2 linked regions of the Homo sapiens genome follow. The gene in region 1 interacts genetically with each later gene. Each region holds a gene or a part of one and is shown in the gene's direction. Other genes may lie near its edges. The genes, in order: OPA1 and PHF5A.

The links.
Region 2: changes in OPA1 (region 1) and PHF5A together harm fitness less than expected from each alone (positive genetic interaction), as found in Homo sapiens cells (one large-scale study listed by BioGRID).

Annotation. Positions count from the first base shown.
Region 1 is NC_000003.12:193,595,995-193,599,813, forward strand, and holds part of OPA1 (dynamin-like GTPase OPA1, mitochondrial), read left to right. Parts: intron 1-3,819. UniProt on the Homo sapiens protein: Dynamin-related GTPase that is essential for normal mitochondrial morphology by mediating fusion of the mitochondrial inner membranes, regulating cristae morphology and maintaining respiratory chain function.
Region 2 is NC_000022.11:41,459,177-41,462,733, reverse strand, and holds the end of PHF5A (PHD finger-like domain-containing protein 5A), read left to right. Parts: intron 1-2,246; coding exon 2,247-2,336; 3' UTR 2,337-3,017; downstream 3,018-3,557.

The DNA of each region.
Region 1 (3,819 bases):
CATTGTAAGTCAACCCTAACATAATCTTAAAGGATAAGATACAAAACATACTGCATCTAGAAGCTTCAGTACTTTCTTCCTGAATCCCAGTAGATCCTTTTGTTCATCCCACGGGATGCATTCCGCCCCCATCCTCCCACTCCCTTTGGATACCACATTACCACAGCTCTGCATCACTTAACTTTCCTCTTATGTTTTTCACCTTTTTTTTTTTTTTTTTTTTGCATTTTATGTCCTGGGGAATTTCCTTAATTCATTTCATGGTTTTACTGTTGATTTTTTTAATATTGGCCATCGCAACTTTTCTTTTCTTTTCCTTTCCTTTCCTTTCCTTTCCTTTCCTTTTCTTTTCTTTTCTTTTCTTTTCTTAATTTTCTTTTCTTTTCTTTTCTTTTCTGTTCTTTTCTTTTCTTTTCTTTTCTTTTCTTTCACACAGGATCTTGGCGTGTTGTCCAGGCTGGCCTCGAACTCCTGGGCTCAGGTAATCCTCTCACCTTGGCCTCCCAAAATGCCAGGATTACAGGCGTGCGCCACTGCATTTGGCGGCAACTTAATTTTTTTATTTTTATTTTTCCTTTTAGAGGACACCTAGCACTGAGCATTGCAACTTTTCATTTCCATGAACTTTTAAGAAAACTCTTAAAGACATGTTTAATTCTGTACACTTTCTATTGTTCTTTGATTGCTGTTTTTGAATAACAACAAGGAGTACGCCTTAGCATTTTGATGGTATCCTCTTAATAGTCGCAATAATAGTCCCCTTGGCGCTCTGTATACTCTCAAGTCTTAAATGTTTTGTATGCAGCTGTACGTTGACAGTTGAATGGTCTCGCTCCAAGTGGATCAGCAAGAACATAAAGAATCATTTAACTGGTACAGGCTGCGGCTTGTGAATTCCCTATTAACACCAAAGAAGACGTGTGAGACTCCGTACTGAAACTAAAGACGACTTGTGAGTTCCACACTGAGATCAAATAAGTCTTTATGATGGTGACAGAGAGTGGTGTCAACGCCTAAAGTTTTGGTTAATCTCTCTAAATTGAGGGGCTGACCAAAAGGGGGAACTTAACTGTATTAGACATAATTTTGAGAAACATGGGTATGTGGATGGTAATGGAGGAAATGGGTGTAGATGAGATTGCCTAGGGAGAGTGAGAAGTAGGTTAGGTCTAAGCCTTGATGAGTTCCCAACATTTCCAAGGGTAGTTGAGGATACTGAAAATGAGTGGCCAGTGAGATAGAGGTAAAGCTAGAGACTGCCCAGGGGAGAGGAATTTTCAACAATGAGGAGGTGTCAACATTGTCAGGTATTGCTGAGAGGTCAGATAAAACCAGAATTGAGCAAAATGGCCATTGGAAGCCTATGGTGCCCTCCGTAAGAGCTGTTTCGCTGAAGTGATAGAAACGGAAATCAGGCTGGGCACAGTGGCTCACTCCTGTAATCCCAGCACTTTGGGAGGCCGAGGTGGGCGGATCACCTGAGGTTAGGAGTTCGAGACCAGCCTGGCCAACATGGTGAAACCCTGTCTCTACTAAAAATACAAAAAGTAGCCAGGTGTGGTGGCAGGTCCCTGTAATCCCAGCTACTCAGGAGGCTGAGGCAGGAGAATCGCTTGAGCCCCAGAGGCGGAGGTTGCAGTGAGCAGAGATCGAGCCACTGCACTCCAACCTGGGTGACAGAGCAAGACTCCGTTTCAAAAAAAAAAAAAAAAAAAGAAATGGAAATCAGGATGGTTTGGCTTTTATTTTAATAAAATAGCTAGAGCAGGGAAATGGGGTACTTTTTTTCCCCCTTTTAAGATGAGACATAGCCAGGTGCAGTGGCTTACACCTGTAATCCCAACACTTTGAAAGGGAGGGTCGCTTGAGCTCAGGAGTTTGAGACCAGCCTAGGCAACATAGCAAGACCTTGTCTCTACTAAAATTCAAAAAAAATTAACTGGGCATGCTGGCACACACCTCTAGTCCCAGCTATTTATGAAGCTGAGGCAGGAGGATCACACTTGAGCCCAGATACGTGGGGCTGCAGTGAGCCCTGATAATGCCATTGCACTCCACGTTGGGCAACAGAGCAAGACTTCGTCTCAAAAATAAATAAATACCCTGTCTCAAAAATAAAAAATAAATATGGGAGGAGAGATTTGACTTAGATTCCTCAAAGGGCAGGAGGAAAGAGAATTCCAAACAGTGATTCACCTTTAATGGGAGAAAGATCGCTTAATTTTACATGAGGAAGAAGAGGATTGGTGGAGATACAGTAGGTGAACAGTTTTTGTATGAGGAAGTTGAACATGTGTCATTCTAATAGCTTCCATTCTCTGTGAAGTAGAGGGCAAGGTCATCTACTGAGAGTTGGGGAGGTCAAGAGAGATAAGGGGAGATTAGAAGAGCTCTTCTAGCAGAGAGTGGAAGAATGAATTGCTAAGAGAGATGAAGTAGGATTGTTAAGTAGTTTTGAGGGCCCTGTTGAGATGTGCTTCCAGTTGGGTGTGATTTTCTCCAGTAGTGCTTTATTTCCCTGGGTACAGGCAGAGAGAAAAACAATAAGGCTCATGTAGGGTTTGTATTTTGTTGGACAAGTCAAACAGAAAAGTCAGAGGACGAGGGAGTTTAGAATGTTTGCAAAAGAGTTATTGAAACGATGAACCGCATAATCTAAGGTGGTAAGTGGGTGAATAGATAAGGAGGATGTGAATAGGTAAGGAGAAGAAAGAAATATCAGATTATTGATTATTGATGGCGACTCTCTAATACAGCTATTATGCCATTTTAACCGATTAAGAAACTAAGGCTTTAGAAAATTCATAATTTGCCCTAACTGCACAGCTAGTAAGCAGTGGAAATGTGATTGGAACCAGAGTTCTTCTGACTCAATAGACTAAATGGATGTAAGGATGTAGTTGAAAGAAGGGTGAGCTAAACGTTGTGGAACCATGAGCTCTTTCTCTGGTTGATATCCCTCTCTGTAAGTGATAACATGGGTCACGCTGGATAAAACCTTGTGGTGATTGGTGACTTTCCTTTGTCCTTCCTCCTGTGCCTAGTCTGGCGAGTATCTGCCTTTCCCTTTCCTTTCTCATTGCTGCCACCTAACTTTAGGCTCTTCCCCTTACATCTGGGTAACTGAAATAAGATCACCTTTTTGTTCCCCTTCTGATTTACTTTGACCTAACATTATCTTTACTATTTTCTTTAAATTAATGTTTCATTAGTCTTATTCTACTCAGGAACTCTGTAGTTCCCCATTGCCTACGAAAAAAAGTTAAGCCTCAGCCTTATATTCAGTGACTCTTCAATTGGATATTCAGTCCAGTTTTACTCCTCCTATGAGCCTTCTATGCCAGCTCCTTGGGTCTCTTGCCCTTTCATTGTCTCAGCTCTGCACCCTTCTTTCTCTTTTTTATTCTTTTTTTTTTTTGTACTTTTTTGGTTTTCTTTTTGGTTTCTTTTTTTGTTTTATTTATTAAACCTCCATCACACTTCATCCTATGGAGTTTTGAACCACAGCAAGGTGCAGTATCATCCTGGGGCTCTGGAGGAAGTGGCAGGGAGTCCAAAATGTCACCTTAGCTTCTTATCTGGGGCCACATGTATTTCTGCATCTGCTGCTTCCCACACTCTTGCCCACAAGTGTCGCTTGTGGAAATAATTTGAGATTTACTGTCTGGCTGACCCTAGTTTCAATCTCTTTTCCACCATTTGCTAATCATTCTACCTTGGGCAAAACATAGAATTAAAAGAAAACTTCAGACAAGTTAAATTTGATGGAGTTTAATTGAGCAAAGAAAAAAAATGATCCACAAATTGGGCAGTCTCCAG
Region 2 (3,557 bases), on another chromosome or scaffold:
AGGAGTAATATAAGTCCCAAGAGAAGCAACTTGCCCACATTTGCACAAGTCAGTAAGGCACAGTTTAAGCTATCATCATATCATGAGTTTCATAGCCTCTCTAAAGAGTTGAGAGTCCTGTTATTATGTCTAATATCAGGCCTTTGTCCAGGAGAGGCAGCTAGTGCCTCATTTTTACGAGGACATGAAATATAGATTACGTTGCTTACTTGGGTTCACCTAGCAAGCTATTGGTAGGCGGCTTCCTTGGTACACCAGGCTTCAGAGATGGAAGTGCTCAATGTAATGACTCGATACTTCTTTTCTAGGAGATCCTAAAATGTTAGTGTTAGTTGCAGAGATTTTTGTAGTTGTTGATGTCTGCCCCCAAAGAAGGATATTAGTTGAGTTAGAAATGAGATGGCTAAGGACTTGATTAATTCATACTATCACCTAATATCACAGGACTCAAACTCTGACATGGGTGTTTAATAAAATCAACAGACCTGTAAGGGTTTTCCAGTTACAGCTTCCCCGGTTTTTCTCCCATCATCCCTAATCAACTGATGGAGTCATCATTTCTATATAACACAGCTTCCCAGGGGCTTCACTGAAAGCACTCAAGCTCATCAAATGGCCAGGGCAGCCTGTCATGACAAATTAGTGCATGGTCTGTCAACAGCCATCTATCTCTAGCCAGTAGTGCTCTGTACCCCCAAGACCATGTGTCAAATTAAGTGAATTAATGAAGACACATAAAACCCATTAGTCTCCTATGGTATTTAAAATGTAAGGGCCAGGCACGGTGGCTCACGCCTGAAATCCCATCACTTTAGGAGGCCGAGGTGAGTGGATCAGGAGGTCAAGAGATCAAGACCATCCTGGCCAACATGGTGAAACCCCATCTTTACTAAAAATACAAAAATTAGCTGGGCATGGTCGCGGGTGCATGTACTCCCCACTACTCGGGAGGCTGAGGCAGGAGAATTGCTTGAACCCGGAAGGCGGAGGTTGCAGTGAGCCGAGATCATGTCACTGCTCTCCAGCTTGGCAACAGAGCAAGACTCCGTCTCAAAAAAAAATAAAATATAAGGTATGGCCGAGCACTGTGACTCACGCCTGTAATCCTAGCACTTTGGGAGGCTGAGGCAGGCGGGTTGCCTGAGCTCAGGAGTTTGAGACCAGCCTGAGCAGCATGGTGAAACCCTGTCTCTACTAAAATACAAAAGAAATTAGCCGGGCATGGCGGCGTGTACCTGTAGTCCCAGCTACTCGGGTGGCGGAGGTTGCAGTGAGCCGAGATCGCGCCACTGCACTCCAGCCTGGCGACAGAGCGAGATTCCTTCTCAAAAAAAAAAAAAGAGTTTCATAGTCTACCTCAACTGTGTCATAGCAGCAGACATGGCTGAGAATCCAGCATTCTACATGAATTGCAAGTCATTGGATAGAGGGTAGGCAGGCCCTGAGCACATTCTTAGGTGTTTAGTAAATTATTGATGATAGATCAAATAGGATAATTGGTAAGATAAATGGCTAAACCATTAATCCAAAGGTTATAAAATGGTCTTTTTTTCTTTTTTTGAGATGGAGTTTCTCTCTTGTTACCCAGGCTGGAGTGCTGTGGCGTGATCTCAGCTCACTGCTACCTCCGCCTCCTGGGTTCAAACGATTCTCCTGCCTCAGCCTCCTGAGTAGCTGGGACTACAGGCACGCACCACCACGTCTGGCTAATTTTTGTATTTTTAGTAGAGACGGGGTTTTACCATGTTGGCCAGGCTGGTCTCGAACTTCTGACCTCAGGTGATCCACCTGCCTCGGCCTCCCAAAGTGCTGGGATTACAGGCATGAGCCACCGTGCCCGGCCTATAAATGATCTTTCATAAGTGCTAAGAGATAGGGAAGAAACAGTGCTGATCTGGGCCTCCCAATTAAGGAGATAACTGGTGTTTGGACACATTTACAAACCCATTTATTGAGTTCTTCAAATACTAAGATGAGAATTTGAACTCTGTGACCAATTTTTTTTTTTTCAAGAGATGGGGGTCTCGCTATGTTGCCTACAGTGGGGTACAGTAGCTGGCTATTCACAGGCATCATCATAGCCCACTAGTCTCGAACTCCTGGGCTTCAGCAATCCTCCTGCCTCGGCCTTCGAGTAGTAGCTGGGACTAAAGGCACATGCTACCACACTGGGCTTAAATTTTTTATCTTAAGTCACTCTTGGTTCAGGCTCAAAGACTTAACAACTTCTCTGTTCTGTTTTCCAGAGAGATGGCTGCCCAAAGATTGTCAATCTGGGGAGCTCTAAGACAGACCTCTTCTATGAACGCAAAAAATACGGCTTCAAGAAGAGGTGATTGGTGGGTGGCCCCTTCCTCCCCCCAACATCAGTCTGCTGCAGCTGCCAGAAAACATGCCTACTACTACCAGCAGAAAGGGAGCAGAGCCCAGAGCATCACCAGGAGTGCCTGCTAGTGTACTGGCAGCTTGCCACCCCCTCCTCTCCCTTCACCCAGACACGTGGTAGGGATGGAAAAGGATTCTTCACAGAGCACTCTGGCACACCATATCGGAGAAAACTTGATAGATTAGTTAATGGTTTTTCTTGAATTCGAGAAGCAAAGATCTGTTCTCCATATTGGTATGTTCTCCCTCAACCAAGATCTTCTAAAAAGAAATAATATTTTAGTCTTCTGCTTGAGGAACTGACTGTGAAGCGACGCCCAGTGAAAAACATGTTCTTGCAGCAGCTCTGGTGGCAGCTGTCCTTGAGGAACCTTTGGTGTGTGGTGGGAAGCTATCAGAACAAGAAATGTAGGCATTTCCCGTTTTTTTTGGGGGGGGGGTGGGGGGGCAGGGCTCTGCCCTCTTGAAAGGCATTTACTTGTTTAACACTTGTCCAGCTACAGTGGGGTACAGTAGCTGGCTATTCACAGGCATCATCATAGCCCACTAGTCTCATATTATTTTCCTTTTGAGAAATTGGAAACTCTTTCTGTTGCTATTATATTAATAAAGTTGGTGTTTATTTTCTGGTAGTCACCTTCCCCATTTAACTTTAACTCTAGGAATTTATTTTAGTCACCCAGGAATTTGTGATTCAAAACAGAGGTAGTGGGATTGGTTAAGTACTTTGTCCTCTTATTACCACTGGAAGGAATTCAAAACCACCCATACCTTTCATTATAGATAGATCAAAGTCATCTTTAGAAACGTACTATTTTTTCCTTCCTGTCCAACTTTAATTTTGAACTGAAGAGATAGCTTCCAGTTATGGTGGAGGCTGGGCACAGTAGCCCATGCCTGTAATCCCAGCACTTTGGGAGGCTCAGGCAGGCGGATCTTGAGCCCAGGAGTTCAAGACCGGCCTGGGCAACATGGCAAAAACCCATCTCTATGAAAAATATGAAAACTAGTCAGGTATAGTGGCATGCACCTGTAGTTTAGTCCCAGCTACTCAGAAGGCTGAGATGGGAGGATCCCTTGAGCCTTGGAGATTGAGGCTGCAGTGAACAGTGATCCCGCCACTGCACACCAGCCTGGGTGACAGAGCAAGACTGCCTCAAAAAAAAAAAAAA